Homo sapiens: one gene and its partner. The protein of the gene in region 1 interacts with the protein of each later gene in a pairwise test. Each region holds a gene or a part of one and is shown on either strand. Other genes may lie near its edges.

Region 1 (15,906 bases):
TTTCTCTCCCAGTTCATACTGTGGGGTGGGGGTGGGGTGGGATTGGGGGTGGGAGTGGAAGCCTAATGGACAGAGAGGTGGAGAGTCTTATAAAAGGGGAATAAACACAGGAATGATAGCCAGCACAGCCACGGTTGCCTTTTCCCCTTCAGTAATTGGTTTGTCACATGAGGCAAAACGTTGCAATGTGGACGGGAGACAGAAATTAGGAAAAACTTGCATAATGTTTCACTGGGGAGGGGGTTTCTCAGTTGAGGCCCATAAATGCTTAGTTTTGGATTGGGCTTGAGGGGCTATACTGTCTCCTAAGAGACTCTTTAGCCCATAGGATCATAAAATCTCCCAAGCTCCTGCAGTTCAAATTGACCTTTGCTCCAGTCAGGAAAACTGTGTAGATTGGGACGGGGGCAGATGTGTTTCCTGAGAGAACATGGGAGGGGTGGGCCTTCCCACAGCCTGTCTCTGAGGAGGTTCCTTGGGGCCCTGAGCCCTTGGGTGTGGTGTAGCTCTAACCGTCTAGGGCTGCCTTTGGCTTTAGGAGGATTTCAGGGATTCATTTCCAGGCACTCTGTGAAAAGGGCAAAAATGTACTTCCCTTCATATCCTCACCGAAGCCTGGCAGCAGGCCAGTCACTGGTGCGGTTTCCTGACATGACTGTGGTCTGGGGAGACCACCTTGAACTCTGAAGTTTGTCCTCCCTTCAAAAATTCAAACTTGGGACCTGGATAGCCCAGTCATGCTCAGTGACAGAGAAGTTGGCATTTTGGGAAAAGTACTAAGAAATCTGATGTCTTCACTGCAGAGTCACTTTCTAAGGAGGAGACTCAGGCTCCCAAGAACATGAGGTAGGCCAGTTGCACTCATACCTTCTGGAGCCCACCAGACTCCAGCTCCTTGTTTCTCACCTTCCTGCAATTGGATGTTTCCCCCTCACACCATTCCTTCGCACTCAGGCTTATCACAAGTTTCTGCAAAGAGATTTTGGGGAGCCAGCAGATGCTCTCCCGAAGAAAATGATTCAGCTATATCCACCCTCACTGAGTGAAGTCCTTTTAAATAGGAGCTACATTTTTTTTTTTTTTTGAGACAGTGTCGCTCTGTCACCCAGGCTGGAGTGTAGTGGTGTGATTTCGGCTCACTGCAACTTCTGCCTCCCCAGTTCAAGCGATTCTCCTGCCTCAGCCTCCTGAGTTGCTGGGATTACAGGCATGCACCACTATGCCTGGCTAATTTTTGTATTTTTGGTAGAGACGGGGGTTTCACCATGTTGGCCAGGCTGGTCTTGAACTCCTGACCTCATGATCTGCCCACCTCAGCCTCCCAAAGTGCTGGGATTACAGGCGTGAGCCACCGTGCCTGGCCCTGACTGGGTTCTAAATGATTCTGGATTCTTAAGAATAAAAGACAGACAGACAGACAGTCTCTGTATAGATGTGTGGAAGAAGCCAGACAGGGAAGGAGCTCAGGAAGGAGAGGCTGAGAACTGAAGACGAAGCACAGCTTTTCTGAAGCTGCATTCCTGCCCCTCACATACCTTCAAACGCCCTCAGACTCAGACATACTTCCTCAGACATGGCTGAGAATGAACTCTTAAATGTATCTGTCCCAAATTCTTTAATGTCTGAGGCCACTGAGAGACAGAAGAGAGAAAGAGTCCCCAGACGGAGGGAACTTAAGATGGAGGTCTCTGACTCTGCCACTTCCACTGTAGCCTCTTGCCCAGTTCTGCTCCTTGATCCATCATAGGTCAGCATTAGCCAGTAAGTGGCCTAAGCGCACACGATTCAGGGAAGAGGACTCTGCAGGCCAGAAATGAGCTTCCTACAAAAGAGGAAGAGTTGGTTGGGTGTGATGGCTCACACCTGTAATCCCAGCACTTTGGGAGGCCAAGGCGGGCGGATCGCTTGAGGTCGGGAGTTCAAGACGAGCTGGGCCAACATGGCGAAACCCCATCTCTACTAAAAAGAAAACCCCACAAAAATTAGCCAGGCATGGTGGCAGGTGCCTGTAATCTCAGCTACTCAGGAGGCTGAGGCAGGAGAATTGCTTGAACCCGGGAGGCAGACGTTTCAGTGAGCTGAGATGGGCAACAGCTGTCTCAAAAATAAAAAATAAAAAAATAAAAAATAAAGGGAATGAGTTGAGGGATGTCATCTTGGCTGTTATCCTACTTTATCTTCATGGGCATCTGGGTTGTAGGCAATGGGTGAGAGGCGTGGGACAGCACGGGCTTCGGATCTTTTTTAGCTGGTTCTTGCATTCTTTCCCCTCACTTCCTTCAACTTTCAAACACCACTCCGCTCCCTTTGTCTGCCCCCACTGTTCCGTCTTTTCCTGTTCTAATTTTCCTTTGCCTTCTCACTTTCTGGGGTTCAAAAGGAATCCCGGAATATCATCTATTGTATGTGTGTGTGCATATTGTATGTACGTGCATGCAGGGTGTGTGTGTGCTCGTACATGTGTATTTGGGGGGCTGTGCTGAGCTTTTGTAGCCAGCCTAATGATAGGACATCCTTCAGATTATCTGAGCTTTTCTTGTAAAAACGTCCTTACCCTGTACATACCCACTTCCTTATTCTTCTAAAGAGCTTGTGGAAATGAGCACAGCCACCCAAATGAGAATAAGCAAAGGCTGTTTATTCAGAGTTGGCCACAGATGGCAGGTAACCACCATCACTTGCATTTGGCAGACACTCACAGTAGGCAGGAGAGTGGGAATCTTCACAATGGAAAACAGGAAAGGCTTCAGGGATGCTCTGGTTGCAGGCTGCGGCATGCAGAAGCTGTAAGTGGGCTACTGGAAGCAGGGCATCCTATGTGTTGGATTAGGGATGCATATTGGCTTTCTCTGATTGGTCCTAATTTGGGGAAGCGGAAATAAATATTAGGGAACTTTTCAGTTATTAATCAAGTCCATAAAGAGAGACTTTCAAGCAAGGAAAAAATTAAGAAATAAAATAGGGGTAATCAAGTCCTAGCTGTTTGGGGCCAATTGCTATAGGAGTTGTTTGGCTTCCTGGATTGTTTGCTGTATATAGTGGGTTGGCTTCTCATACTTATTGCTGGAGACTACAGGTCAGAGTTCCATCTTTATATATGGTCTGGTCATTGTTCATTTGTATGGTCAGTCTTTCAGTCCCTCCTTTTGGTCATTCTCTGACTTCTGAGAAGTTGACCAACTCAGAGAAAGTTAGAATTTCACATCTTCACCAATCATAAATTGTTCAGTCATCTTCATAGTGACCTGGATTGTAAGATCTTCTTGATCTTTCTATTGTATCATTATGGCAATCATCTGATGACAGAGTGGCTGCTAGAAGCATTTAAAACTCTGGATAAAACGGAACAGACTAGCATCATGACCACTATCAGAAAAATAAGAAACAATTGATAGTCCCTCTGAGATGCTTTAGAACCAGGAACTCCAATTGCTTAACCTAGGCCAAGAAAACAAATCCCATAAGCCATGAGGACCTTAGAGATCCAAATATTAATAGGTTTTTTTTTGAAGCAATATAGTCTTTTTTTTTTTTAACCTTGCCTGTGTCCTTGACCTAAGTATCACAAGAAGCACTGGCAATGGTGCAGACAAAATCGAAGTGGCCTTCCAACTGTGTGGAATTTTGAATCTCTTCTTCAGTTGTGAAACATGAACCCAAAGGTTGGCTCCTTGGAGTTTCACTGCTGTATCTATTGTTAACAGTATCTGATAAGATCTCTTCCTTTTGAATGAAGTTCAAAAGCAGTTATTCTCTGATTTTTCTTCCAGTAGACAAATCCACTAGTTGAGGATCATGGAGAGGTTGTTTAGGAAGATTTTGTAGGAAGGGGACCTTAACCTGTTGGTGATAGGACCACGTACAATACATGAGTCCCTTGCAGTATCTTGTCATGTCTGCATGGAGTAGGACAGACTCTAGTATTGGAGGTGAAATCTCTAAATGCATGGACCTTCCCGGTATCAACTCATAGGGGGATAACCTATGTGTCTCCAAGAAAGTGGCCTGTATATCCGTAAAGGATAGTGGATATACTCTTGGTCAAGGGAGCTCAAGGGTTTCTGAAATTGTTGCTTATTTTAATGTAAGGATGCCATGGGTCGTTTTTGTGGGTGGTAAGGATGGTGTAGTTTTTGAGTAAGAGTTCTTTTATAAAGGTCGCCTTAAAGTGTGTGCCTCAGTCACTTGATATAAAAGGTGGGATGCCCCAGATTGAAAACATAAAATCAAGCAGCTTGTTCACGGCTGTAAGGGCTGTAGCATTTTGGCAAAGAAATTCTTCAACTCATCCTGAAAACAGACATACAATATCTAAAACATATTCAAATCCCAGGGAGAGTGAAAGCCGGTGAAGTGTCTTGTGAAATAAAATTTAAGCAAGGCCATTGATTTGGACTGGGCTCCTGCACTAAGCCTAACAGATCAAACAGATACGGTGTGTTGTTTGATCTGTTAGGCTTAGTTGTTTACAGGCTTACAATATGTTGCAGCTGAGCTTTAACTAATTGCAGGAGACTCTGTAACCAATTAACCAATTAAGCTGCCTCTGTACCATGCTTCTTTTGTCTCCTATAAATGCTATCAGATTATGTCATTGGTTGGAGTTCTCTGAATTTCCTCTAGTTCCAAATCGTGCCTGATTTTTGAACTGCTTTTTTTTGTTTTGTTTTTGCTTTGTTTGCTTTGTTTTGTTCTGCTTTTCTTTGCTCAAATAAACTCAGCTAAAATGTACACTTGTCTAAGGTTTTATTCCATGTAACAGTCCGAAGGTGTCCAAAGAGGCTTTGGTTTCTGGCCATGTCCCAACTTTACAGTTTTTCCAGAGTTATATTTTTGACAGGTGACACATGACCCAAAAGTAAGCTCAGTTGCCTTTTCAAAGTTTTCCTACCAATGTTTACTTAAGATAGTAACCAATTTGTCTATGCCATAATGGGTGTTTCATGGAGAAATCCAGATAATGTAGGGGAGGAAATATCTTTCTTATTTGTCTTAAGTTCTAAGGCGGGGCTCTGTAACAGAAGGCAGATTAAAAAGTGAAAAGCATACACATTTATTTAATGTAAGTTTTACATGGCATGGAAGCCTTCTGGAAATGAACCAGTCTGAGTGGATGCTTATATACTAAGTTAGACAAAGAACAGTAAATTGTGAAAACAAGTCAAAGGGATATGGGCTAGGGCTGTTAATCGTGGAGAAGTGGCTAGGGAGATAAGGGCTAGTTTAACAAGGTTTATTTGTAGTTTTCTCTCAACCTCAGCTGCCCCCATCTCTGGTAATAAGAATGTCTTCCTTCTTCCACGGAGGGTCCCTGCTACGTGGGAGCATTGTCTCCTGCTTTTAGAAAGATCAGAGTGCCCTTCTTGCATCTGCTGTTTTTCAAGAGCTTTTAATTCAAAATAATCCATATGCCAGAAAGGCATATTTTGGGGTGGTATGTTTTGAACTCCTTTAGAAATATCTACTTGAGATCATCTGGTGTCACCAAGCAGCACCAGGAATTATCTGAGTGAAGAGTACAACTAGATGTTTTCCATTCTTTTTCAAAATCAGGGGCTAAATGTCAATATTTTATAATGGCCTCTTTGAATCCCCCAGAGATTTATCCTTTAAAGGTATAGATAGAGTCATAAGCTTGGTTAAAGTAGCTTCTTTGGCATAATGATCTGCTAGAGAATTTCCTTTAGTTTCCATATTGTCTCTTTTTATATGGACCTCTACCTATATAATAGCCACTTCTCTAGGAAGTGGGGGTGCATCTGAAAGTTCCTTAACTTGCTGTCCATTTCTAATGCCTATTTTCTTTTCTTTTCTTTTCTTTTTGAGACGGAGTTTTTGCTCTTGTTGCCCAGGCTGGAGTACAATGGCACGATCTCGGCTCACCGCAACCTCTGCCTCCTGGGTTCAAGCGATTCTCCTGCCTCAGCCTTCCTGAGTGGCTGGGATTACAGGCATGTGCCACCATGCCCGGCTAATTTTGTATGTTTAATAGAGACAGGGTTTCTCCATGCTGGTCAGGTTGGTCTCGAACTCCCAACCTCAGGTGATCCACCCGCCTCAGCCTCCCAAAGTGCTGGGATTACAGGTACGAGCCACCATGCCTGGTCTTCTAATGCCTATTTTCAAAGCATCTCAAAATCATATGCTATTTCAAAAGCATACCTGCAGTCTGTATATATGTTTGCTCTCTGGTCTTTGTTTAGGTGACAAATTCTAGTAAATGCAATACATTTTGCTATCTGGGCTGATTTTACTGCAGGTAGTAGACTTTTTCTTAAGAAGAGTTTAAAATAGGGGTAGCATAGCCTATTAATAATGTAGGGAACCAGAATATGCCAGCTCAATAATTTTGAGTTGATTATTTTGAAAAACAGTAAATGCAGGAAAAACTCAAAAAACAGGGCTCATCATTTCCACAGCTGCCTCTCCCCTCTTCCTTCCCTGCTGTGAAAGAACTATAAATGTCCTTTTTTTTTTTTTAAACAGTGTCTCTCTCTGTCACCCAGGCTGGAGTACAGTGGTACAATCACGACTCACTGCAGCCTCCATCTCCAGTGTTCTTCCACCTCATCCCCCTGAGTAGCTGAGACTACAGGAGCATGCCACCATGCATGGCTAGTTTTGTATATTTTGTAGAAAAAGGGTTTCGCCACCTTGCCCAGGCTGGTCTCAAACTCCTAAACTCAAGCAATCTGCCTGCCTTGGCCTCCCACAGGGCTGGGATTACAGGAGTGAGCCACTATGCCTAGCCAAGTTTCCCTTTTGTAAGAGAAATTTCCATTTATATTCCCATTTGTATGGATGTCTCCCTTTCCTGTGCCAGGAAGAGGAGGACTTAATCACGGAGGACTTATCAATGGAGAAGACAACCAACTTGAATTTGCTTAACAAACTTTACTAAACAACCCTTATATACTATACATTTCCTAGTCCGCTTGTCGCAACCTCCCCAGAAGCTCAAAATCCCTTTCCTATGTGCAGAGACAAAAGTGACTCCATCTTGAATGCTAATCTACCATGTTGACGTCTGATTAACCATGTCCCGGGAATGCCTCCTGATTTCTACTTTATTTACTGTCTCTAGTGTAGAAACATGTATTCACTATAAATCCTGCCTTTAGATCAAAACAACCTTAACGTTATCATGCAAATTATGGGCTATGACAAACACAGCATTCTTGCCTGTTCTGAAGAGTTGCCTTTCATTGTCTCTATATAGCACGTACCCCTTTTCCCTATGGTATATAAGCTCTGGGTCTGGGGAATAACAGTGCTGAGATTTACATGTCTTGCTGCTGCCCAAGACGACACTTCTGGCTATAAGTTCCCCAATAGAATAAAACACGCTTTACTGACAAACTGAATTTGTCTGCCTTTCTTTAGTTTCTAGGCTCCTTCAGCATTTGGGGCCACTTCACATATGTGGCCCTTTCATGGAACACTGTCTTGTCACTTCTGCACAATTTTCTTTGTCAAAATGGCCTATAAACTCTCAGGTTTAATTGCTTCTTTGAGTCTTCACTTCTTTTTTTATGAAGACTTCCATATTCATGTAGAATATTAATATTAAATTAAATTTTTATGCCTTTTCTCCTGTTAAATCTGTCTTTTGTCATTTTAATTTACAGGGCCCCCAGCCCTCTAGGAGGGTAAAGGAAGAATTGATTTTTCTTTCCTCAGTGTACTAACTTCAAGTTTCAATTCTGGGGTATGTTCCATCAATAAATCATATTAGGTCCGGGTTCTCAATAGGAGTTGCTAATAAATCTGACTGACATGCAGAATGTTTCCTACTGAGGTAAGACAATCAAGAGGCTCCCCTTCTGGTAGGGACAGAGGGTGGCAGAATTCAGTGTGTTGCAGAGATGAGTAGTAATTTATGAGAGGGAGAGAGGGATAGAATCTTATAAGAGGTTAATCGGCTGCCTGAAGTGTGCAGTGAGTTCTCAGTCAGGTGTAATGCCTGTGCTGCGTGAGAAACCAGGAGGTCAAGCAGGGAGTCTAGAACAAGTTCAGCAGAAGCAACAACAAATGTTGCCATGGCATCTACTGCCCTAAGACAAGCGGGGCTATGCCTCTGCAACTGGGTCAAGGATAAGGCTGCAGTAAGGGCTTCTGATGGTTCCCCATTGAAGTGCAATTAAAGCTCCAAGGGCTTGTCTAGATTGCTATGCATAAATAGACAAAATGGCTTCCTGTAGTTTCAGGATTCCTAGGGCCAGGGGCTGTTGAAGAGCCTTATTATAGTTACAGAAGATCTGTTCACATCTGAACTGTGGTTCTGAAATCATCTTGCTGGGTGGAGGCCACTTTTGTGCAGCCACGCCCAGTGCCTTAGTGGGGTCCACCTGACTAACCAAACCATCCCACCAGGCGCCCTTCAGGTGAGTCCTGTGCCTTATTTATGTCTGTATCCCACAGTCTAATGAATGAATGAACACATTCTAACTTGACTATTCAAGAGAATAAAAGTATTATTAAAGACTCAGAAAAATAAAATACAGGTGGGGGCTGGGGGAGTAAGGAAACTGTAGGGGCCAAGGAAAAATTCCCCTTTCACCCTCCAAAGGTTTGCTGAAAATCAACTGACAAAAGACAGATTGATAGGAAAAAACGCATACAAATTGATTTGATCGTAGTTTTACACGACACGGGAGCCTTCAGAAGACCCAAAGATAACAGGGGAAAGTGGGCATTCTTACACTTGGATATCAACAAAGTATGAACAGCTGTGTAGAAATATGACTGGACAACAGGGCGATCTAATGAAAATAGACTGAGTGGGGAAACCCAGCAAGGCCTCCCTGTCTAGATTCTTCTTGGCCTCTCTGAGCATTCGTCCTTTTTTTCTGGGTATGGGGGGCAGGACCCTCTCTGGAATGAGGATCTTACGACCTACAATCACACAAGGTAGGTCAGATAATTTCACTATGGCCACTTTTTACACAGAAAGGCTGAAACAATCTGAATACACAGCACGAAGGGATATTTTGATAATTCTTAGAGGTATCCAAATTGTTACTCAGCAAAAAAACAGGTCTCTTTCTAGGAGGGCATTCTGCTGCTAATAAATATGATATTCTTTGTATTTTTTCCCCAAAAAGAATTTGAGATTTGGGATTTAAGTTTATCTTTAGTTCCTCTACTCAATTCCGACCTACAGGGTCAGTGGTTACTGTAGATAAGAACAGCCCCATCCTCTCGATGCCCCCAGAGCAGGGGTGGAGGGTGGGTGGGAAGTGGCCAGAACTGGGTGAGCGCACCCTAGAGGCCTCCTCCTCCTCCCTATTCAGTTACTCCCCCTTTCTTCTCCAGATCTGGGAAGCCTTCCAGCTGGGGGCAGCAGGACAGCCTCCATTCCCCCCGACCCCGCCTCCCATCCCCGGGAGAGGTAGCGTTGGGAGAATGCCCTCCTAGAAAGAGACTTGGGTTTTGCTCCCTAGGAGCCCTGGAATAGCTTTGGCCAGAATTCCCTATCTCCCATTAGAACCTCTCCTTTGCGTCCTTTGTTAACCTCCAAGTCTACTTGGTGAAAACGCCCACGAAGAAGTAACAAGGACTTTGTTCCTAGTGTGCCAGGTTTGGGCACCAGTGCTGTAGTGGCTTTCTCTGCTGCTCCTTGTGCATCAGCAGACAGATGTGGTTCACATAGGAAGAAAGACTAACGTAGGCAAAGATTTGCTCTTTCTTCAGCAGCCCTAGAAAGACGGCGGCCTGGGTGATTCACCACTCCTTCCTCACGTCCTTGATTTTATTTGAACTGAGCTCCAGATGCTCCTCCCACCCTTTTCCTCTTGGAAGCCAAACCCCTTTGTAATCTGTATAAGGTCCACACCCCGGGAGCTGAGTGATTGCAGAAACTGGCCTTCCATCTCTCTCAGACACCAAGCTGCAGATCCAGGTAAGCAGCCCAAGAGGTGTTCTCAGGTGCCGCTTCTGCTTCAGGGTTGCAGAAGAGGGAGCTAGGGCCAGTCCACAGCACTGAGAAAGATTGGGTGATGCTAGCGCTGAAAAAATGTGGCCCAGGCAAACATCAGCTGGGGGCAGAGGGGTCAGGGTGGAACGTGCAGGCTGCAGAGCATCCATGGGACTGGAGAAGAAGGAGCCTCCAAATTGGGGGAGGCCAGCGTTTCTCTCTGGAATACAATGGAATCTTTTATGATGCCAGTGTCAGGCACTGGCCTGAGTTCCCTTATGCTCCAAGACAACAAGGCTCTGTCACCCATGGCCCTGGATGTCGGGGATACAATTTGGTTCATGATTTATTCAAACTGATGTTTCGATGAGCCATTTGAGCACTGGGTACAAATGTATTTTGGATCAAAGAAACTCCAGTATTCAAAGATAGGAACTGACAGGATTTTAGGTCACTTTGTAGGTCACCACCTAGAGGGGAGGAAGACCTCGCTTTGGAGAGTGGGAATAAAACGCTCGTGGAAAAGGGTACACGTGAGTGTCTCATTACACGAAAAACCTCAGGAAGTAGGATGGACGTCTTTCTGGCTGACCTGAAACAGAAAGTGTAAACCAGGCAAGCCATAGGTGGGAGCTGGAGTTCTTTTTCTAAGAGGGCTCTTTTCCTTCTCTCTCCTTTTCTCAATTAGGCTTTTCTGGGAAAGTGAGGCCACCATGGCTCTGGAGAAGTCTCTTGTCCGGCTCCTTCTGCTTGTCCTGATACTGCTGGTGCTGGGCTGGGTCCAGCCTTCCCTGGGCAAGGAATCCCGGGCCAAGAAATTCCAGCGGCAGCATATGGACTCAGACAGTTCCCCCAGCAGCAGCTCCACCTACTGTAACCAAATGATGAGGCGCCGGAATATGACACAGGGGCGGTGCAAACCAGTGAACACCTTTGTGCACGAGCCCCTGGTAGATGTCCAGAATGTCTGTTTCCAGGAAAAGGTCACCTGCAAGAACGGGCAGGGCAACTGCTACAAGAGCAACTCCAGCATGCACATCACAGACTGCCGCCTGACAAACGGCTCCAGGTACCCCAACTGTGCATACCGGACCAGCCCGAAGGAGAGACACATCATTGTGGCCTGTGAAGGGAGCCCATATGTGCCAGTCCACTTTGATGCTTCTGTGGAGGACTCTACCTAAGGTCAGAGCAGCGAGATACCCCACCTCCCTCAACCTCATCCTCTCCACAGCTGCCTCTTCCCTCTTCCTTCCCTGCTGTGAAAGAAGTAACTACAGTTAGGGCTCCTATTCAACACACACATGCTTCCCTTTCCTGAGTCCCATCCCTGCGTGATTTTGGGGGTGAAGAGTGGGTTGTGAGGTGGGCCCCATGTTAACCCCTCCACTCTTTCTTTCAATAAAACGCAGTTGCAAACACCTGATTTCTGAAGCGGTTCTGTCTAGGTACTGTTTCTGGCATTGCCTTCCAGCAAGGGGTAAGAACTGTAAATCTGATTCACTTTGGAGAACGGTGAATGGAGTAATTAAATGCCTTCCCTTCTGACTTGGATTTTAGTGGCTTGAGAAAATTCCTTTCCTTGTAGATTCCCTGATGCCAAACATAAAACTGTTAAGTGTGGGCTGTTTTAGACAAAAGGGAGCTACAGCCTGGGACACTGCCATGCAGGGTGAACTGACAGAGGGGTGAAGCTCAAATACAATCATTCTCTGGCACAGAAGGAAGGCAAGTGTGACCTCAGGAAGATCCTGCTTAGCCTCAGGGTGGGGAAGAGGACTCAATGAAATTATGATCCTAAATTTCCATTTTCCTTTTTTTTTTTTGAGTGAGCTATTACTAAATCAGAAAAATGGGCACCTCTTAGTTGGAAAGCCAGAACCTTACATTTTAGAGCCAGAAGTGACTTTGGAGAGCACGGAATTGAGGGATAGCAAGTAGATTTCAGTTTGTGTACCAACTCTAATTGGAAGTGCCGGTCGGGCGTGGTGGCTCACACCTATAATTCCAGCACTTTGGGAGGTTGAGGCAGGTGGATCACCTGAGGTCAGGAGTTCAAGACCAGCCTGACCAGTATGGTGAAACCCCCTCTCTACTAAAAATACAAAAAGTAGTGGGGCGTGGTGGCAGGTGCCTGTAATCCAGCTACTAGGGAGGCTGAGGCAGGAGAATCACTTGAACCTGGGAGGCGGAGGTTGCAGTGAGCTGAGATGGTGCCACTTCACTCCAGCCTGGGCAATAAGAGTGAAACTCTGTTTCAAAAAAAAAAAAAAGGAAGTGCCTACCCAAAATGCTGTAGCAAAAAATTCTGGACAGTGGTGTGGTTGAACAACAGCCTCTATCGAAGGCACGAGAGGGGGAAGGGTGTGTGTGCCACACATTTGCCATCCCTGACCAAATGTGACCCCTGCCTTTCCGGTGACTTGCACATGGCTTGTTGCTAGTTAGTGGCACAGCCGGGACTACACCCTAGGTTTCCTGACTTCCAAGCCATTGTTCTAACTCAGGAAGCCATTGCTCTAACTCAGGAAGAAAGCTCCCCTCCTCAGTAAGTGCTGTGGAGCGGTAGCTCTCTCCCAGAGCTTGCTGGTGGGCTCTCACAGGCTCCCAGTGTTCTTAGCCTGTGAGTCCACTCCACTCTTGGCAACCCTTCCTGACAGCCACTGAAAGACTACCTTTGGCATCTGTCAACACTTAACCTGGGAGGCAGAGGTTGCAGTGAGCCGACATCGCGCCACTGCATTCCAGCCTGAGTGACAGAGCAAGATTCCATCTCACAGGGTGGGGGGTGGGGAAGCTTGCCATATAAAGAATACTTTCTGCAGGGCCTGTGCGGAGATCCACTGTCTTGTGGCTGCCTGAGACATGGCTTCTATTTGTAAGTCCCTATTAAATGTTTCTTTCTGAGAAACTGAACTTGTCATGAAGTGGGATTTAAGGAACCAGAGAGACCAGATGGCGTGCAGGAGGGTGTTTATTTTAAGGTGTACACTGGCCCAGCGGACTTGTGTCCTAAAAGGCTGAGCCCAAGAACAAAGAAAATGAGTCCCTTTTAAGCATTTTGAGGCAGGAACTAAGTGAAGCAGGCTTACAGAAGTGAGAACAAAAGGCCGCTGTGACACTTTTGGAACATGTCTTACATCTCTGTGAGAACTTGGTTTGCAGCTTATGCTTATCTGTCTTGTGACCTTGCAGCTGTGCAGGGAAGAAAGAAACAGGAGTTTACAGAGCCTACAAAATATGTGGAGGATAGATATGGTTAACGTTTCTTGGGACAGACAGTTAATATTCTCTTCTAACTTTAACTTCAGGGGGGCTACTTAAATTCTTTTCAGCCTTGGTTAATACAGCAATTCATTCTATGAGCTATTGTTATTTCTCTTATTATTATTACGTATGCTATTATTTGTTATTTTCTTAGTTTCCTACTTCAGTCAAGCCCTTTCTTTGGCCTCTCATCTCCCTCAGCCCTTGGGGGTACATTGGCATAGACCTGCTCACTGCAGAACAAGGAAGGAGGAAGCAGGAGAAACCAAACCTGCCATACCGTGTTCTTGAACTTCTGGCCTCCAGTGAGAAAATGAATTTCTGGCTGGGCATGCTGCCTCACGCCTGTAACCCCAGCACTTTGGGAGGCTGAGGCAGGAGGATTGCTTGAGCTCAGGAGTTCAAGAGCAGCCTGGGCAACATAGTGAGACCCCCGTCTCTACAAAAAAATATTAAAAAATTAGCCAGGCAAGGTTGCAAACACCTATAGTCCCAGCTACTCGGGAGGCTGAGATGGAGGATCACTTGAGCCTTGGGGGTCGAGGCTGCGCTCCAGCCTGGGCAACAATGAGACCCTGTCTCAAAATTTTAAAAAATAAATAAATAAATAAATGCATTTCTATCGTTTGAGCCGCCCATTTTGTTATGGCAGCCCTAGGAAATGAATACACCCTTTAACCAATTCTTCCACTTCTCTTGGATTGCATCCGTAGCTGCCCTGACACATCCCTATGGCGGGCTGGTCTAAATTAGATGCCACGGTGGTGGGGATGGGGTGGCTGTGGGGTGAATAGAAGTGTCTGTGGGGACAAATGAACATCTACTTCTTCCTGGGACAGCTGGATGGAGTGGAGGGACTTTAGAAACCGTTAACAGGTCTTAGGGAACTGGCCCTGCGTCCCTTCTGAGGCTGCTGTAAGGGGAAAAGAAAAAGTAGGGGCATGAAAGCCCTTGGCAAGATGTGAAGCGAGGCAGCCTTCGTGCATGCTTGGTCAGTTGTGTACCTCCAGCTAGTTAGTGTGCAACAGCCCTCACGCTTCCTCTGCAACTTCTCCCCTGCCATCAGCTGAGCTTTCATGTTCTCAGTTCATGTTCTCGGTTCATGAGTGTTCATGTTCTCAGTTACTCTTGGAATATGGTTCAATTCAGAAATTCCCAATGCACTATTAATGAACATAGAGAGACGGATATACTATTCTACCAAAAAAAAAATCTGCCCTTTTAAAATCCAGGGAATGTCTGGACATACACATTCTTAAGTCAAAGGAACATTTTTCTAGCATTTGTGAAAGAAGGAGTGAATGAATGGAGGTTGGAAGGAGTGCAGTAGTTACAAAGATTGGCTTATTTTTTATGGGTCTAGCCTGGATTTTAAAAACCTGAGACAGGATAACAACTCCAAGTGCCTGTGGGACTTCTGTAAAATGGAAATATTCATAACACTTAATTAGAAGTACTGTGGTAAAGATGACATTCAGAGAAAGCGTAGTGTTCAGCGTTCTGTGGACACTCAGAAAGTTAGCCACTATCACCGAGGCATGGGGTATGGTGTTTCAGAGCCTTGGCTCTGGAGTGAAACAGACCTGTTTCACACTCCACTGTGCCTTTTGGGAGTAGTGTGGCCGCAGGCAGGGAACGTAACTTTTTTAACATCAGGTTCCCTATGTAAAATATCATGATAAACATGGTATCAACTTCAGAGATTTGTTGAGGATTAGTTGAGGTCACATATAAAAAATATTTAGGACAATGTCTGTCCATAATAAAAGCTATTACTCTTAGAATCAAGAATCATACATCCTATTCTATCACTTGCATGCAACCAATCAAGACTGGGGACAGAATTGACAATGTCTCACTACAGTTTTCTGTATTTATAATTCAAGGTGCCAACATATGATTTTTGTTTGTTTGAGGGCCTCAGATGAAAGAGGGGCCAGGAACATTAGTACTGGAACTCACAGGAGTATGAATTCTATCATCCCAAGAGAGGGGATAACCAGAGATCTAGAAAGCACAGAAGATCAGGCAGAGACAGTAGAAAGGCCTAAACTTGATTTCAAGAACCGACTCTCAAAAGAGTGAGTATAAAACCAGTGTATACACCAAGTACAGTCATGTGTTGCTGAATGATGGGGATACAATGTGTCATTGAGTGACTTCATCATTGTTGGGAACCTTACAGACTATATTACCTAAAACTAGGCAGTATAGCTTGCTCTACATCTAGGCTATATGGTATAACCTATTGCTCCTAGGTTACAAACCTGTTCAGCAGTTTACTGTACTGAATACTATAGGCAATTGTAACACAATGGTAAATATTTGTGTACATAAACATAGATAAGTTACAGTAAAAATATGGTATAAAAGGTAAGAAATGGTACACCTCTGTAAGACACTTATGTGTGGAGCTTATAGAATTAGAAGCTACGGCCAGGTGCAGTGGCTCACGCCTGTAATCCCAGCACTTTGGGAGGCCGAGGCGGGTGGATCATGAGGTCAGGAGTTCGAAACCAGCCTGGACAACATGGCAAAACCCCGTCTCTACTAAAAATACAAAAATTAGCCAGGCATGGTGGCATGTGCCTGTAATCCCAGCTACTCAGGAGGCTGGGGCAGGAGAATCACTTGAACCTGGGAGGCAGAGGTTGCAGTGAGCCGAGATCGTGCCACTGCACTCCAGCCTGGGTGACAGAGCAAGATTCGGTCTCAAAAAAAAA
Region 2 (15,874 bases), on another chromosome or scaffold:
CTCACGCCTGTAATCCCAGCACTTTGGGAGGCCGAGGTGGGCGGATCACGAGGTCAGGAGATCAAGACCGTCCTGGCAAACACGGTGAAACCCCTGTCTCTACTAAAAATACAAAATAGCCGGGCGTGGTGGCGGGCGCCTGTAGTCCCAGCTACTCCGGAGGCTGAGGCAGGAGAATGGTGTGAACCCGGGAGGCAGAGCTTGCAGTGAGCCGAGATCGCGCCACTGCACTCCAGCCTGGGAGACAGAGCGAGACTCCACCTTAAAAAAAAAAAAAAAGATAAGCAAACATGAATCACCATCGGTCATTTTCTACCTTGCAAATTCAGTTCCTAGCTCAGTAAATAGGTGTTGAAAGAATAAAAGGATTGGCTGGGTGCGGTGGCTTACGCCCGTAATCCCAGCACTTTGGGAGGTCGAGGTGGGCGGATCACCTGAGGTTGGGAATTCCAGACCAGCCTGACCAACATGGAGCAACCCCATCTCTACTTAAAATACAAAATTAGCCTGCCGTGGTGGCACATGCCTGTAATCCCAGCTACTCGGGAGGCTGAGGCAGGAGAATCACTTGAACCCGGGAGGTAGAGGTTGCGGTCAGCCAAGATCATGCCACTGCACTCCAGCCTGGGCAACGAGAGTGAAACTCCATCTCAAAAAAAAAAAAAAAAAAGAATGAAAGGATCTACTAGGACCTGTCAAGGCAGGGAATTGAAGGAAGGTGAACTAGAGGACCCTCCCATCCTCAATGTCAGGAGGGGTGGAGGAGGAGCCTGGAGTTCAGACACCCTAGGGTCCTTTCCAGACCCTCAACTATATCTGTTATGCCTGCACCCAGTGTGCATCCCAGACCTTCCTACCTCATCACTCACTTTCCTCCATGAGGAAGAGCTCACCCTCTAGACCTTCATCCCTCCTCCACTGGAGAAATGACTCCCAATGCAGCTCTTCCCCCACTGGTTGACATCCAGGAACCAGAGGGCCTTCCCTGGCACCGGCGGCAGCTTCACAGTCTCTGACCGGAGTCCCCAGGCCTTGCTTAACACCTTCCACCTCTGTCCTCTCCCAACATCCATCCATCCACCCCCACATTCGTTTTTGTTGTTGTTTTGTTTTGCTTTGCTTTTAGACAGAGTCTCACTTTGTCACAAAGGCTGGAGTCGTTCAAGCGATCCCCCCACTTCAGCCTCCTGAGTAGCTGGGACTACAGGTGTGCACTACTACACCCGGCTAATTTTTAATTTATTTTTTGTAGAGCTGGGGTTGGGGGTAGTCTCCTGTGTTGCCCAGGCTGGTCTGGAACTCGTGGGCTCAAGCAACCTTCTCCCCTGACTTTGCCCCCCTCAGCCTCCCAAAGTGCTGAGATGACAGGTGTGAGCTCTACCTGTTCTTTGCAGCAATAAAATACTTCTGGATTTATGACACTTGTCTCATTTACAATACCCTGCTTAATGAAACATCAGAGGTAGAGCCCAACTATTGCTGCAACACAAAAGGGAGAAGGAATGCTCTTATTTGAAAATGCTCCTACCCCAGGGGACATCTGGCAAAGTCTGGAGATACTATATTTTTGGTTGTCAACAATGGGATAGGGATGCTATTGGCATTTCGTGGTAGAGGCCAGAGGGGCGGCTAAATGTCCTACAAGGCACAGGGCAGCCCCCTACAACCAAGAAGTATCTGGCCCAAAATGTCAACTGTGTTAAGGTTGGGAAACCCTGGCTTAGAGTATTTTGGCAAATACTGTTTCACTTGTGCTACCTCCTTGTGAGGCAACTGGCCGAGAAGCCTGGCTTAACACTTCCTGGTGATGTGTCTGTCTTTTGTCTCCTCACCTGTAAGACTTGAAGGGAAGTGCACCCTCCCCACTGGGCTGCCGTCAGGGTTGAGGGAGTTAATATCCATAAGGCGCTCCAGGCTACTGCAGCCTGCCTGGAAGCTGAAGGAAAGGTGGGGGCATTGTAGGACACCTTGAACCCAGGTCTCCCAACTTCACAGGACTCCCTTCCTCCGCCCAGGAGTTTTAAGGAAGAGGAACTTCCTGGTGGGACATATTGAGTGCCAAACGTGTGTTCACATAAAAAATCAAGAGATCAGGGCATGAGTCTGCATCTGAAAACTCGAGTAAAAAATCCGGTGTATGCTGTTAATGGAAAGAACAGAATATGACACTTGCATGCCGCATATTCTCACTTCGTTCCTTGGGGGTGTGCTGCTACCTCTGGTCACTGGCATCGGACTTTTCTTCCTTCTTTCTACTTTCCTACATCTCCCAAGTTTTGTATTTTGAGCATGTGTTAGCATTATAACTGCTAAACAGGAAAGATGGCCTTTAAAAAGAAAGTGAAGTGTAAAAGTTTGAGGGTGATGAAATAAATGTGCTTGAGGAAGAAAAAGCAATCTCAGTTTAATCCTATGGTTGCCCCAGGAGGCACTAATTTATCCCTTCTGCTTTTCAAGTGAGGAAGCTGCAGCTTGGCGTAGTTCTGGGGGGAGTATGAAGCTGCCTTGGTTTAGGTGATGGAGCACAGGTCCACAGACATGTGTGGGTGCATCTGTGGCAGGGGAGAAAAGAGCATGTGTCCAGACTACAGCTTGTTCAGAGCTGGGACACTGACAATAGAGCACGCACTGCGTGCGTAGGTGGGTGTGTCTCCGATCCTCCAGCAGTGACAGGGACGAAGCCTTGCCCTGTGGGATGACTCAGGCCACTGGCCAAATGTTATGTCTCCATGTTCAAGTCCCTCTCCAACTTCTCCTCCTGGGACAGAAACAGATGGCAGCGGAGCAGGAGAAGGTGGGGGCAGAGTTCCAGGCACTGAGGGCTTTCCTGGTGGAGCAGGAGGGTCGGCTGCTAGGCCGCCTGGAGGAACTGTCCCGGGAGGTGGCACAGAAGCAGAATGAGAACCTGGCCCAGCTCGGGGTTGAGATCACCCAGCTGTCCAAGCTCAGCAGCCAGATCCAGGAGACAGCTCAAAAGCCTGACCTTGACTTTCTCCAGGTAAGTCTGGCTCAGCCAGGGGCTCGAGTCATTTATCCTAAGGCATCAGGACCAGCAGCTAGAGAACAGTGTCAGTCCTGGGGGGTCTAGGAGAATCACATGATCTGGAGCTGAAGGGGACTGGAGAGAAGTGCCCTGATTTTCCTGGGGTTGGAGGTCTAGAGAGATGTGAAAACTTTCTTGACTATGAGCCACAATAATATATATCGTATTTCAGAATCACAAGCTTGAGACAAAAGTCTCAGAAAATAATACTCACCTTTGCTACACGTATGCACTTTGATGTTTTCTATTCTATTTCGCTAAAAAAAAAGTTATAAACAACTAGATAAACTTCACAATCCATAGATGGGTTAAGAACAGTCATTATGGGGCTGAGTGAGCAGTAGGTGCATAAGGGCTGTGACCTCCCTCAGGTGGTTTCCAGGACACACGCAGCACTGGGTCCCATGGGATAGCTCCAGTGATGATTCTGTAACTAAGAAAGCAGCAAAGATAGAAAGAAAGCACGTGAAGAGTTGTGGCAAAGGGTGAGAGGTCCACTGCGTGGGTGAGACACCCTGCAGCCAGCAGCCACTGGAAGCTGCTGCCCCTGAGGCCCACGCAGGCAGTGAGGCGTGGCACACTTGCTTATGCTTACATCTGGGAGGCACAGCAAGGGGCAAGCTTTGTTTCTCAGAGGTGAATGGAGGTTACCTGATGCTGATTTGGTTTCCTCTATCTTTCCTTCCAGGAATTCAAAAGCACGCTGAGCAGGTGAGTGACCTCACAGCTCCTGGGGCCTCTCTAAGTTGCTTCTTCCCTTTTCACTGAGCCTTGTCTTTATTCCCTGTCCCCTGACCTCTCACCTCCTGATCCCCCGACTTGCTTGCCTGGGGACCTTCCGAGACAAACGCCCACCTGCCTGGCCATGGGTTTTTCTGCATGAGGTCTGGCTCTCCCTTTTCTACCTCTTTCTGCCAAGAGGACCTCGCCATCCTAATTGTCACAGCCTGTGGGAGCAAAATGGTGCACACAGGCCCTTCTCAGAGCCCTTGTCCTGCAGGTGTAGCAATGTGCCTGGCCCCAAGCCAACCACAGTCTCTTCTGAGATGAAGAATAAAGTCTGGAATGTTTCTCTCAAGACCTTTGTCTTAAAAGGGATGCTGAAGAAGTTCAAAGGTAGGGGCCTGGGCGCCAAGCTGGGCCACATAGTGCGGTGGTGGTGGAGGGTTCCTGGTAGCTCAGGGGTCCCTGGGTGTGCTTTCCAGAAGCTGTGTGTGAAAATAGGAGCTGGCTGTGCCATGGCCAGATTGGTGTAGGGGCTGTGGTGGCAAATCTAGTCAGGCCCCCGCAGGGCATGCCGCTTCTCATGGGCACAGATGGGGTAGAGGGGTACTGCTGGGGGACTGGGGTTAGGAAGAGAGCTGTGCAGGGGAGCTCAGCTCAGAGCCACTTGGGTAGAGCTAGAATGCTTGGGTATGGGCCCCCTGCCCCCCGCTCCCCATGCTTGGCCCTGTGCCTGCACGTTCACTCTTGGCCTTAGGAGTCTCTGGGGAATGAATGAGTCAGTTGGGATATAAAGAGCTGGTGACCTTGCCATATAATCTCCCGTGTCGCTCATGCACGCCTTGCTTTGTTTCTCCTCCTCAGAGGACCTTCGGGGAGAGCTGGAGAAAGAGGAGAAAGGTAGGGATGGTGCTGTGATGGCGAGTATGGACTGTCTGCCACACAGAGATCCTACTCCCTGCTCGTGACCATCTCAGGGTTTTGCATATGGTCGGTTCCTTCAGCCCACCCACCTCAGCAACCCTGTTCCTCTGTCCCCTCCCCCACACCACCCCCTCCCCATCCTGGGAGCTCTGACACCCTCAGATGTTGGCCCAAATGCTGCAGGTTGGTTAGGAGCAGGAATGCCCTGTACCTCGAGATACTCAGACTGGGAAAGGCTTCTCGGCCACCTGGGTGAGCCTCTACCCGGTCCCCACTCCAAGATGGATGGAAACCTCTCCTGGGAATGGGGTGTATACAGGGGACCAGGAAAGCAAGGGGAAGCTAAAGACTGGAAGGAATATCGTTTTTACTCTTGCAAAGCTCTGGAATGTGTGGCATCCAACACCCAGAGGAGGGGAGGGGAGGGCACATATTCCTGATGCTGATGTCTGAGCTAAGTCAGAGTGTGTCTGGGTGCCACCTAAAACACCTGAGTGAGACCAGGCCCTCCTCTGCTCAGAGCCCTGCCACAGCCCCTCTGACTTGGTAAAGGTCAGAGTCCCCATGGAGGTCTCAAGGGCCCACGGGCTCTAGCCTCACTGCACACCCCTTCTACTCCACGCAGCTACACATCCTCCCTGCTGTTCCTTCAGTGTACCAAGCACACACCCATCCCGGGGCCTTTGCACTGCCAGGCTCCCCCACCCCAGGCCCCTACCTGGAGCATGCTTTCCCCAGCCAGTCCTGTGGCCTGCTTCTTTGCCTTCTTTATATCTGTCTGCTCGATGCCCCTTTTCAGTGAGGGTCTTCCCTGGCCACTCTGGTTGAAGTTACAGCCTGCTCTTCTGGTCCCTCTCATCTTCTGTTTATAATCTATCCTCAATCCTCTCCCTGTGGGAAGGAAGCTGCAGGCAGGCAGGACTACTCTGATACTCTGTGGTACCCCCAGGGCCTCAATCGTAGTAGTGCTCACAGTAAGTGTACATATTTTAACTTTTTTTTTTTTTTTTGGAGACAAGGTATCGCTTTGTTGCCCAGGGTGGAGTGCAGTGGAACTGCAGCCTCCACCCCGCAAGCTCAAGCGATCCTCTCTCCTGGGCGTCCTCGAGTAGCTGGGACTACAGGAGCACACTACCATGCCTGGCTAAATTTTCTATGTTTTGTGGAGACGGATGTCTCGCTATATTGCCCAGGCTGGTCTCCAACACCTGGGCTCAAGCTGTCTTCCCACCTCTGCTTCCCAAAGTGCTAGGATTACAAGCATGAGCCTCTACACCTGGCCTTAACTTTTTATTATGAAAAATTTCAAACATACTCAAAAGTAGAGAGAAGAGTGTAAAGAATGTTACATACCCATCTCTCACCGTCCGCAGTGATCAATTAGTGGCCACAGTTTTCATAGACACTGCTATCCACTTCCTGTGGGATTATTTTGTTTTCTGAGACAGGGTCTTACTCTGGAGTGAGATCATGGAGTACAGTGGCCTGATCTCTGCTCACTGCAACCTCTGCCTCCTGGGTTCAAGCGATTCTCATGCCTCAGCCTCCCAAACAGCTGGAATTACAGGCACAGGACACCATGCCGGGCTAATTTTTGTATTTTTAGTAGAGAAAATACAAAACAAGTTTTCCGCCATGTTGCCCAAGCTGGTCCCAAACTTCTGACCTCATGTGACCCATTGGCCTTGGCCTCCCAAAGTGCTGGTATCGCAGCTGTGCACCATCTCACCCGGCCTCCACTGTATTATTGTTATTATTATTTTTATTTTTGAGACAGAGTCTTGCTCTGTCGCCCAGGCTGGAGTGCAGTGGCGTGATCTCAGCTCACTGCAATCTCCACCTCCCGGGTTCATGCCATTCTCCTGCCTCAGCCTCCCGAGTAGCTGGGACTACAGGCGCCCGCCACCACGCCCGGCTAATTTATTTTATTTTTTTATTTTTAGTAGAGACGGGGTTTCACCATGTTAGCCAGGATGTTCTTGATTTCCCGACCTCGTGATCCACACACCTTGGCCTCCCAAAGTGCTGGAATTACTGGCGTGAGCCACTGCGCCTGGCCTACTGTATTATTTTAAAGCATCAGAGACAACATATCATTGCCATAAATACCTCAGTGTGTTATCTCTAAAGAAACAGACTTTGTAAAACATAACCACAAAGCAGTCCTCACACCTGGACAGATTAATGATTCTTTCCAATGTCTAGCATTCAAATATCCCCATCTGTTGAATTGGGGTTCAAACCAGGCCCACACATTGCATTTGTTTGATTTCAGTAAGTACTTGTTGAGTGGTCGGGGCGGGGGGAAGCAAAATCTCTGGGAGGCAGAGCGTGGGGGTTGGTTGGGCCTTGGCGCTGGGTGCTGGGGGGATTCTAGAGGGAAAGGCAGGCAGGTTGCAAAGCAAGGTCGGGCGCGGCCCTGCAAAGACTGTGCCAGGGGCCTGGCTGCGTGGGGACATTTCTCCCTGTCTCTGTCTGCAGTGGAGCTCACCTTGGATCCCGACACGGCCAACCCGCGCCTCATCCTCTCTCTGGATCTTAAGGGCGTGCGCCTCGGCGAGCGGGCCCAGGACCTGCCCAACCACCCCTGCCGCTTCGACACCAACACCCGCGTCCTGGCGTCCTGCGGCTTCTCCTCGGGCCGGCATCACTGGGAGGTGGAGGTGGGCTCTAAGGACGGCTGGGCCTTTGGCGTGGCCCGCGAGAGCGTGCGCCGAAAGGGCCTGACGCCCTTCACTCCCGAGGAGGGCGTCTGGGCCCTGCAGCTCAACGGCGGCCAGTACTGGGCCGTGACCAGCCCCGAGCGGTCGCCCCTCAGCTGCGGGCACCTGTCGCGCGTGCGGGTGGCCCTGGACCTGGAGGTGGGAGCCGTGTCCTTCTACGCTGTGGAGGACATGCGCCACCTCTACACCTTCCGCGTCAACTTCCAGGAGCGCGTGTTCCCGCTTTTCTCTGTTTGCTCCACGGGCACCTACTTGCGAATCTGGCCTTGAGGGGCACTGCTGGGGAGCTCCTGTCTCTGGGCTGCCGGTGGGAGGGGATGTCGCCTCCCCAGAGATGCCTGGTCCGTCTTGGGTCTGCCCTCCGTGCTCCTGACCCCTGCTGCCCAAGAGAGCCTGCTACAGACACAACCCCGAGGCAGGAGAGTGACTGTGGCCAACCGAGCAGGGGAACAGGGGCTTTGGACTCCTGAGGGTGTTCCCTTCCTGAGGTCACATGTGGATTTGGCCAGAGCCTTCAGGAGGTGGAGGCCGGTGAGGTCAGGAGCCCAGCTCTCCAGGGGGCTTCTGCCCTGACTGGGAAGGGTGCCTGGCTCCCTAAAACAATGTCAAAGCCAGTCCTGCTGTTCTCTGTTGCCAGGGGGCAGGTCTGGGCCTGGGCCAACCACGTTTGTTATCATGGCTGCTGCCTTCTGGACAGCTGCCAGCTCTGCCTTGAGAGGTTGTGGGACCTCTGGATCCAGCTGACCTGACAGGTCATCTACTCAGGGAGGAGCCCTGTGCTCCCAGCTCAGAGGACAGTCTGGGCCAGAACTGGAAGGAGACATCTGTCCCGTCTTTGAGTGACAAGCCCGGGACAACAGCCAGTGGGCATCACGGCTCTCCAGCACTCCTTAGCCGGAGGATACAGAGTGATGGGTGCATCCTGACCAATGCGACAACCAACACGTGCTCTCACAAACCCCTGACTCCCGCACTTTCCAGTGCCAAAGTACAAACGCTGCTTGGATAAGGAGAGCAAAGCTTCTGGAACTTTATTTACTCTTTCTTTTTAATTTTCTTTTAAGAGACTGGGTCTTGCTATGTTGCCCAGGCTGGTCTTGAACTCCTGGCCTCAAGTGATCCTCCAGTTTCCATCTCCCTAAGAGCTGGGATTACAGGTGTGAGCCGCTGTACCCGAACTTTTTTTGTTTTTGCTTCTGGAACTTTGAAACACAAAACACAAGTTGGCACTTACAATTTTAAAGATGCAGCCAGCTCTAAACAACACACAGAGCACAAATATGCTCCTGACGGACTCAGGAAAATGCCAACAGCAGAGCACCCTGGTGCCAAGGCCTTCTCAGCCCATGCCCTGGAGGGCATTCCCCTGGCCAGCCTCAGCCCCTTGTCTACTTGTTCTCCAGCTTCTGGGTAGCTGGGCTTCTGGAAGGGTGGCAGTGGGCTACTCCCTGCTCAGCGCTCCCCTGGGAAGGGGGTGAGGAGATGAAAATGAAACTATGAGCTGTCTTTGGAGTTGGCTTGGCCCATTTTCTACTCCCTAGATCTGAGTGCAGGAGCGTAAGTGTGATCAGGGTTTCTGCCAGAGTGAATGAGCATGCATGTTTCTGTGTGGGAGGAGTGTGTATTTGTATCTCACCTTTCTTGGGGGTGTGTGTGTGTATTTTGGAGAGGGCATTTATGAGCATGTGCATAAGGTTCAGGTGTTGCAAACAGACCCAAGTCAGTCTGGTCATACCCTATTGTTGATTTGTTGTTAAATACTGACCACCTCATATTTAGACAAGGGCCACAGGTTTCTTCTCTCACTACCTGGCTACCAGGCTAGATGAACAGAATACCAGACTCGGACCTAATTCTGTCCCACACAAGTTATTTAGACAGAGGTGCTGGCAAACAGGGGCAATGATAGCTGAATAGCCCTGTGTCATGGAGCTTCAGTGCTCTGTCTCTGAGGTGCTTCAAGCTCACCTGGCATATAGGGTTCTCGTGGGGCAGCCACAACACTATCCCAGAGGCAGGCCCAGTTGACACAGCACCAGACAATCAGAATACCGCATCCTCCAGGCTGAGGACAGGGTCATTTCAAAGTCCTGCCTACAGAAGCATTCCAGAGAGTGAATCCTATGTCCTGCTCATACATGGAGAGCAGCTCTAAAACCGGGTAGCCAATTCAGGCATTTGAATACCACTGATTTCCACAAGGAAAACCGATCTCTAACATTAATTTCCTAACTGAATCACCTATTGTTACCGTTAAGCCTTAATGTTATCTGGCTTGTATGGCTTTTTGATTAAGTATCATAATTCCCTTTGTACCATCCAACAAATGTGCTGGGCATCACAACACACATTACAGGTCCCAGAAAGTACCATGTCTGGTGAAGGTGTCACATGAGGGTCAGGTCTGGGGACTGGGAGTAGCTGTCCGCATGTTTATTTTCCGTTTTTGTGTCCATGAGTGCAATCGTGTGTCTATCAGAGTGTGTGTGTTTGCAGAGTGACTACATATATAGCTATGTATCTTAAGAAATGTAACAACAGTTACTGTAACAATTGCATAGAGAAGGGAACAGATGTTCTTTCTTGCTAACCAGGGCAGTACAGTAACTTGGATGTCAGGATGCTGGTGTCCTCGAGGGCATGTGTGTGCATTTCCCTCTCCTAGACTCTGGGCATCATAAACTCTAGGGACCTCTGGGTCTGTGAGAACAACTGGCCTAACTTGGGCCCTTCTTATTCAACCCATCAGTCCTAGCTGCTGACCCATAAGCGCAGGCCTCTGCCGCCAGACCCTCACAGGGACCCTCAGCATCCAGAATGGGGGGCACCTAGAGGCCCACCTCTGGCCTGGCCGCCCAGTGACCCAAGTCACCCGGCATTGCAGGGAGCACAGGGCAGGCTAGGCCACCAGACCAAGGTCCACCTCCTACACCCACCACTTTCTGTCCTTTGCCAGGCTGAGCCCTCATCCTTTTCCCCTCTCCTCCGGCCCGTGGGCCCTTTAAGGGCCCTGACAGAACATGTCAGGGTGTACCCTAAAAGCTGCCTTTTCCTACTTCATCCAAATGTGAGACGGGGCTGGCACCCACCCGCAACCTCGCCTGGACCCTTCCCACCCCAGCGCCTCCAAACACCTGGCCCTCCTGATTCCCCGCCTCCCCCGCCACACTCCCGCTGGGCCTCCACCTCCTGATGACCCCACTGTTCCCCCACCGCCCAGCTCGCCCCAGGTCCCGCCCTAACCTCTCGGATCTGGACTCCCTGCAGGACGGGCGCACTGACACCCTTCCCTGACCTTTCCATAGCCTTGACCTGGATCCCCGCTTCCTCACGCACAGCAAGACGCAAAACGTGCTCCCCAATCCTGCGCACGCCCTTCCCTGGCCCCCGCCCCGCCCAAGGCCCGGGGCGGTCCTCACAGCTCGGAGCTCGGCGGTGCCGCCCCGCCCCGACAGCTCCCGCCCGCGCGCGCGCCCAACGACGGCACTGTCTTCGCGGAGCCCTCTGCCGGGACTAACGGCCGTTCCGTGCCACGGACGCACGGGCAAGATGGCTGCGGCCGTGGGAGGAGCTTGGGTCCAGCAGCCACAGAACTCGGCCGAGGGTTCAGCGGACTGCGGCTGCGCGGCGCCGGCGACAGCGTCAACTGCTTTTGTGTCAAAAGGAAACCAACAGCCGGCTCCATAGCTCAGGGGTTAGAGCACTGGTCTTGTAAACCAGGGTCGCGAGTTCAAATCTCGCTGGGGCCTGCTTCCGTCTTTTCCTATTCTTTCCTTAAAGATAGAAAAGTGGAAGATAGGCAAGCCTACTTCCGCCTTCCTGGGAGGCCAGAGCCTGGCGGAGTCACTTTCTTTTTGCCTCTAAGATACCCACCGCGCAAGGCTACTTTCCTACCACTTCCTTATCTCTTGAAGAGTCAGACCCACTGCGGGCTTCCTTTTCCATCACGGGTTCCCTGGGCCCCGCGCGCCCTCTCCCCACGACCCCGCTCACTTCCTTCTGCGCGCTCCCCGGGAGCGTCTTTCCGCTTCTCTCCGGTCTTCCCACTCCAGCTAGGGACTCGCCCTCGTGTCTCCTTCCCTCTCTCCAGGGGGAGACGATGGCACTACCGCGCCCCTTCCCGCCATGCGTTTGTTTGCGGCGTTCCCCGACGCGCGCGCTGAGGCTCTGGTCTGCGGCTCTGCGCTTGGCGGCTGCGCGCCCTCGGCCTTCGGGTCCCCGCCGCCTCCGTGCTGCAAGGTCTGATTTCTTCCTGTGGAGTTAACACGGAAAAGCGCAGACGGCCACATTCATGACCCGGGAGTAACGGCTCTACCTGTCACATTCGCTTTCAGCCTAAAACAAAATTTTAGTTTATTTTAGACAAAATATATAACTAAGGTATGCTGGCCTTCTGACTGATTTATTCTTGCTGTTAACGGAAGTGTAGAAAGTGAGCCCAAGTCCTCAGTGAACAGTGGGGGCGCTGCCCAGGTGCAGGACTGGCCCCCTGGGGGTCTCGGGACGGCTCCCGCCTCCGTCTTCCCCGCACCGCGCACTTTGGAGGCCTGGGCACAGGTGGAGGCGGCGCTGGGTCCCGCCGTACACTCCCCTGTCGCAGGCGCCCTCTCTCCAGCCGGAGGGAACCTCAAAAAAGCTCTGAGCGAGTCCCCGTCCCAGGTGGGGCCGCGGCTTATACCGGGACCACTCCAGGGTAGCTCAAGGTTCGAAAACGGAATCCCTGTCCGGTGAACCAGAGAAGAGAAAATCGCTCGGGGCCACCTGGGTAGAGACCGGAGGGGTGACTGCCTTGACTGGGAGGCGTGGAGGAGCGAGCGGGGTCTGCGGCTCCGGCCGGGAGGTATGCGCTTCCCTCTCTCACCCATGCCTGCTCCGGTCCAAAGAGCCGAGACCGTGGGTCAAGACCGGGATGGATTCGCTCGGGAGAGGCCAGGAGCCTGCCAGCACGTTCGGGCACTAGCGCTCCCGGGGCTCCTCGGACTCGTGGACCCCGAAACGCCTGCCCCACAGGAAGATCACCCCACTGTAGAAGTCGGGTCACGGGGACCAGTGGCGAGCTACCTGACGGCTTAACTACAGATACCCTCCCGACGAAAGCCGTGGACTCCCAGGGTGCGTGCGTCTGCTTGTGTGTGGGGGTGTTGGCAGGCGGTCCCCATAATCATCGAAGAGACAGGTGGATGAACCTCAGGCCTCGCACTCGGGGGCTCTCAGAGTCTGGGCGTTACAGCCGCTCCCGTACACTCACGGGTCACCTGGCTGAATCAGGTGGGATCTGGGTGAGGTGCCGGGAGGTCTCCCAGGCTGGCGCTCCTGTCCAGCTGCTGGGGGAGGCGTGGGTGCGAGGCTTGGGACAAGGGAGAGCTATGCCGGGTGGGGAGGACCCTTGGGGCGGGTCCGTTCACCTGAAATGTTCACTGCTGGAAGAGCCGAAAGCCAGCCACGGCACCCAGGGGAGTCCAGCGTGGAGAGGCAGAGAGGAGGGGCGAGGACAGTGGCGGTCGCAGACGGCGGAGCAAGATCGCCGAGCGTGCGAATGGAAAAATGAGCATTGTTTCCTCGGAGTAGCTTAACCACCATCCCACGCTGTTTTACAGCAGTGTAGGAAATGTCTCTGCTGGTGACACAAAAATAAACCTGTGCATCAGCTCTGAGTAGATTATCGCGAATTTTACAGCAGGAAACCGCATCACTATTTTTACTACTAAATAAACCAGTGCAATTAAAGTGCGCAGGGCGAGAGTAGGTCTGAGGCGAGAAAAGAGGAGCGCGCCCGCCCAGCTCGAGCCTCAGGCTTGCCCTGTGCTGGAGGCGGCCCGGGGGCAATCCCGGGAGAATGCTGCGAGGGCTGTGAGCCAGGACCCCGACTCTGCACCGCGGGAGCGCGCGCGCGTGGGTCCCAGCCTCCGAGCTGTGCAACAACCCCGTGGCTAGAGTCTCCACGAGAAGACAGAGTTCCTGGTCATCGGTCGTTTCCGCCTTACACTTTCCTACATTTCCTGAAGATTTTGCAAATGGGTATGCACTGTTTATTATCTTTTCATAAAACGGTAAGAGCGGCTTCTGGGGGCTCCTCACCCAGCCGGTCCGGCGTTCCTTCCCTCTCAGCACTGCGCTCTCTCCCGAGCCCTCCGGCTCTACCAACCTCTGTGTCCTGCCCCTGGGCCTCAAGATTTGCGCCTTTCTTGGACTCGCTTGGGAAGGGGCGCCCAGGCTGCAGAACGGATGGACGCTCCTGCCTGCTACTCGAGTGGATCGAGCAGGGAGGCGCTCATTCGGATTCCAGGAGACCAGAGGACACAGGACATAGGGAGCGTTTACCCTGTGTGGAGCTACCTGCGGCTGAGAATTAGTGGCAGACGCGGAGATGGGCAGCGGGGACAAGTTGGGCTTGGGAGACTATAAGACCTTGAGAATGGGTTCAAGCTGCCAGACGGAAATCCGCCTTTTCGGTGAATCGAGCCATGAAGAACACAATCATGAAAAGATTCAGCGAGCAACTAGACAGCCGGCTCGTTGGTCTAGGGGTATGATTCTCGCTTTGGGTGCGAGAGGTCCCGGGTTCAAATCCCGGACGAGCCCACTTTTTCATTTTTTTTTTTCCATTTCAACTGAAGTTCTTCTTGTTCAAATCCTGGATGAGCCAGCTTTTTAAATTTCAACTAAATTTTGTGTTACCTTGACAGTTTTGATCCCGAAAGATGTCCAGCGGAGGCATCACCAAGATTTCCGGGAGTGCTGGGGATTGGAAAGAATCGTGGATAGGAGACTAAGCGAGCCGTCCCGGAAGCAACAGTTGCTGTGAAGACTTTGGGCACAGACCTGCACGTGAGAGTATGCTCTTGAGGGTTGTGGGGGCTCTCCTTTTACAGCTAGGGATCACTTGTCGAACGTACCCGGAGAGTAGCTGCTAGCAGACAATATTATGGCGACAGAGGTAGGTGTGGGTTTCCGTAGTGTAGTGGTCATCACGTTCGCCTAACACGCGAAAGGTCCCCGGTTCGAAACCGGGCGGAAACATGCCACAGTGTTTTTTTTTTTTTTCCCCCCCCTTTCTTTTGAGATGGGGTTTCGCTCTTGTTGCCCAGGCTGGAGTGCAATGGAGTGATCTCGGCTCACAGCAACCTCCGCCTCCCAGGTTCAAGCCATTCTCCTGCCTCAGGCTCCGGAGTAGCTGGGATTACAGGCATGCGCCACCACGCCCGGCTAATTTTGTATTTTTAGTAGAGACGGAGTTTCTCCATGTTGGTCAGGCTGGTCTCGAACTCCGGACCTCAGGTGATCCGCCCACCTCGGCCTCCCAAAGCGCTGGGATTACAGGCGTGAGCCACCGCGCGCGGCCCCGAAGCGGTTATTATCTCATTACACGCTCTTATTACACTGGAGACTAACCTAGAAGATCCCACTAGTATGTCCACCTGGTGGTCACAGCGGCACAAAGAGAAGAGGGCATCTACGCTTTTGCTTTCCATTCCCAACCACCCGCACCTGTGAACTCAATCCAGTTTTACTTGCTGTGGACAAGCTCGGCACAGAGCTCATCCACTGGACAGCGGCACGCTGCCAAATGGAACCCCGCATCTCGAGTATGTGTGGGGCCCATTACTCCTTTTGTAACCCATAGGGGACAAAAGTGACAAAACTACCACAAACTGGCAGCGGTGGGATTCGAACCCACGCCCCCGAAGAGACTGGAGCCTTAATCCAGCGCCTTAGACCGCTCGGCCACGCTACCTCTTTGCCGCTGGGTATTTACATATTTTCCTTCAGTTATGAAGCGTGCGAAGGGGCTCTGGGCCAACAGGGAGTTGGGGCGAATCCACAGGGCAGGACCATGGCAGGATCCGCTCCGCCAAAGCCACTGGCTGGGAAACGGCTCCACCAGTGCCCTGACACAGGATTCTCAATGCCCAGGCCTCAGGATCTGCTTTAGGAAGGCCAGTCATAAAGCCACCCTCTTTGGGGAATGCACTCCAGAGCAGGGGAAGACTTCGACACTCTCACTTCAAAAAATCAAAAACAAATACAATGAAAAATAAAATAAAATAAAAACCTAAAGAAAAACAAGCAAAAAACCCCAGCCTGGGCAACATGGCGAAACCCTGTCTCTACAAAAGATGTAAACATTAGCCGGGCGTGATGGTGTGTGACCATAGTCCTAGCTACTCAGGAAGCTGAGCCCAGGAGGTCGAGGCTGCAGTGAGCCGAGATCGCCCCACTGCACTCCAGCCTAGGTGACAGAGCAAGACCCTGTACCAAAACCAATCAAACAAAAACAAAACAAAACAAACAAAAAGCCCCAACAACAACAAAGCAGACAACAAACTGAGAGTATGTATTGACTTTATGAGTCATGAGCAGAAACGTTCTTAGCAACTTCATTCATAATAACTCACTTATGGAAACAGTCCAAATGCCCACCATCTTCACATTGGATAAATAAAATTGTGTACAGTCTTAT

Evidence for each region.
Region 2: the proteins of RNASE1 (region 1) and TRIM7 interact in binary tests that used the Homo sapiens proteins (3 or more experiments, as listed by UniProt).

What each region holds. Positions count from the first base shown.
Region 1 is NC_000014.9:20,796,792-20,812,697, reverse strand, and holds RNASE1 (ribonuclease pancreatic precursor), read left to right. Parts: upstream 1-9,853; 5' UTR 9,854-9,901; intron 9,902-10,333; exon of another isoform or gene 10,334-10,449; intron 10,450-10,604; 5' UTR 10,605-10,629; coding exon 10,630-11,100; 3' UTR 11,101-11,470; downstream 11,471-15,906. UniProt on the Homo sapiens protein: Endonuclease that catalyzes the cleavage of RNA on the 3' side of pyrimidine nucleotides. Acts on single-stranded and double-stranded RNA.
Region 2 is NC_000005.10:181,186,975-181,202,848, reverse strand, and holds the end of TRIM7 (E3 ubiquitin-protein ligase TRIM7), read left to right. Parts: exon of another isoform or gene 1-261; intron 262-1,832; exon of another isoform or gene 1,833-2,695; coding exon of another isoform or gene 2,696-2,767; coding exon 2,768-2,998; intron 2,999-3,731; coding exon 3,732-3,754; intron 3,755-4,043; coding exon 4,044-4,159; intron 4,160-4,630; coding exon 4,631-4,666; intron 4,667-5,967; exon of another isoform or gene 5,968-7,171; coding exon 7,172-7,683; 3' UTR 7,684-8,925; downstream 8,926-15,874. UniProt on the Homo sapiens protein: E3 ubiquitin-protein ligase that have both tumor-promoting and tumor-suppressing activities and functions in several biological processes including innate immunity, regulation of ferroptosis as well as cell proliferation and migration.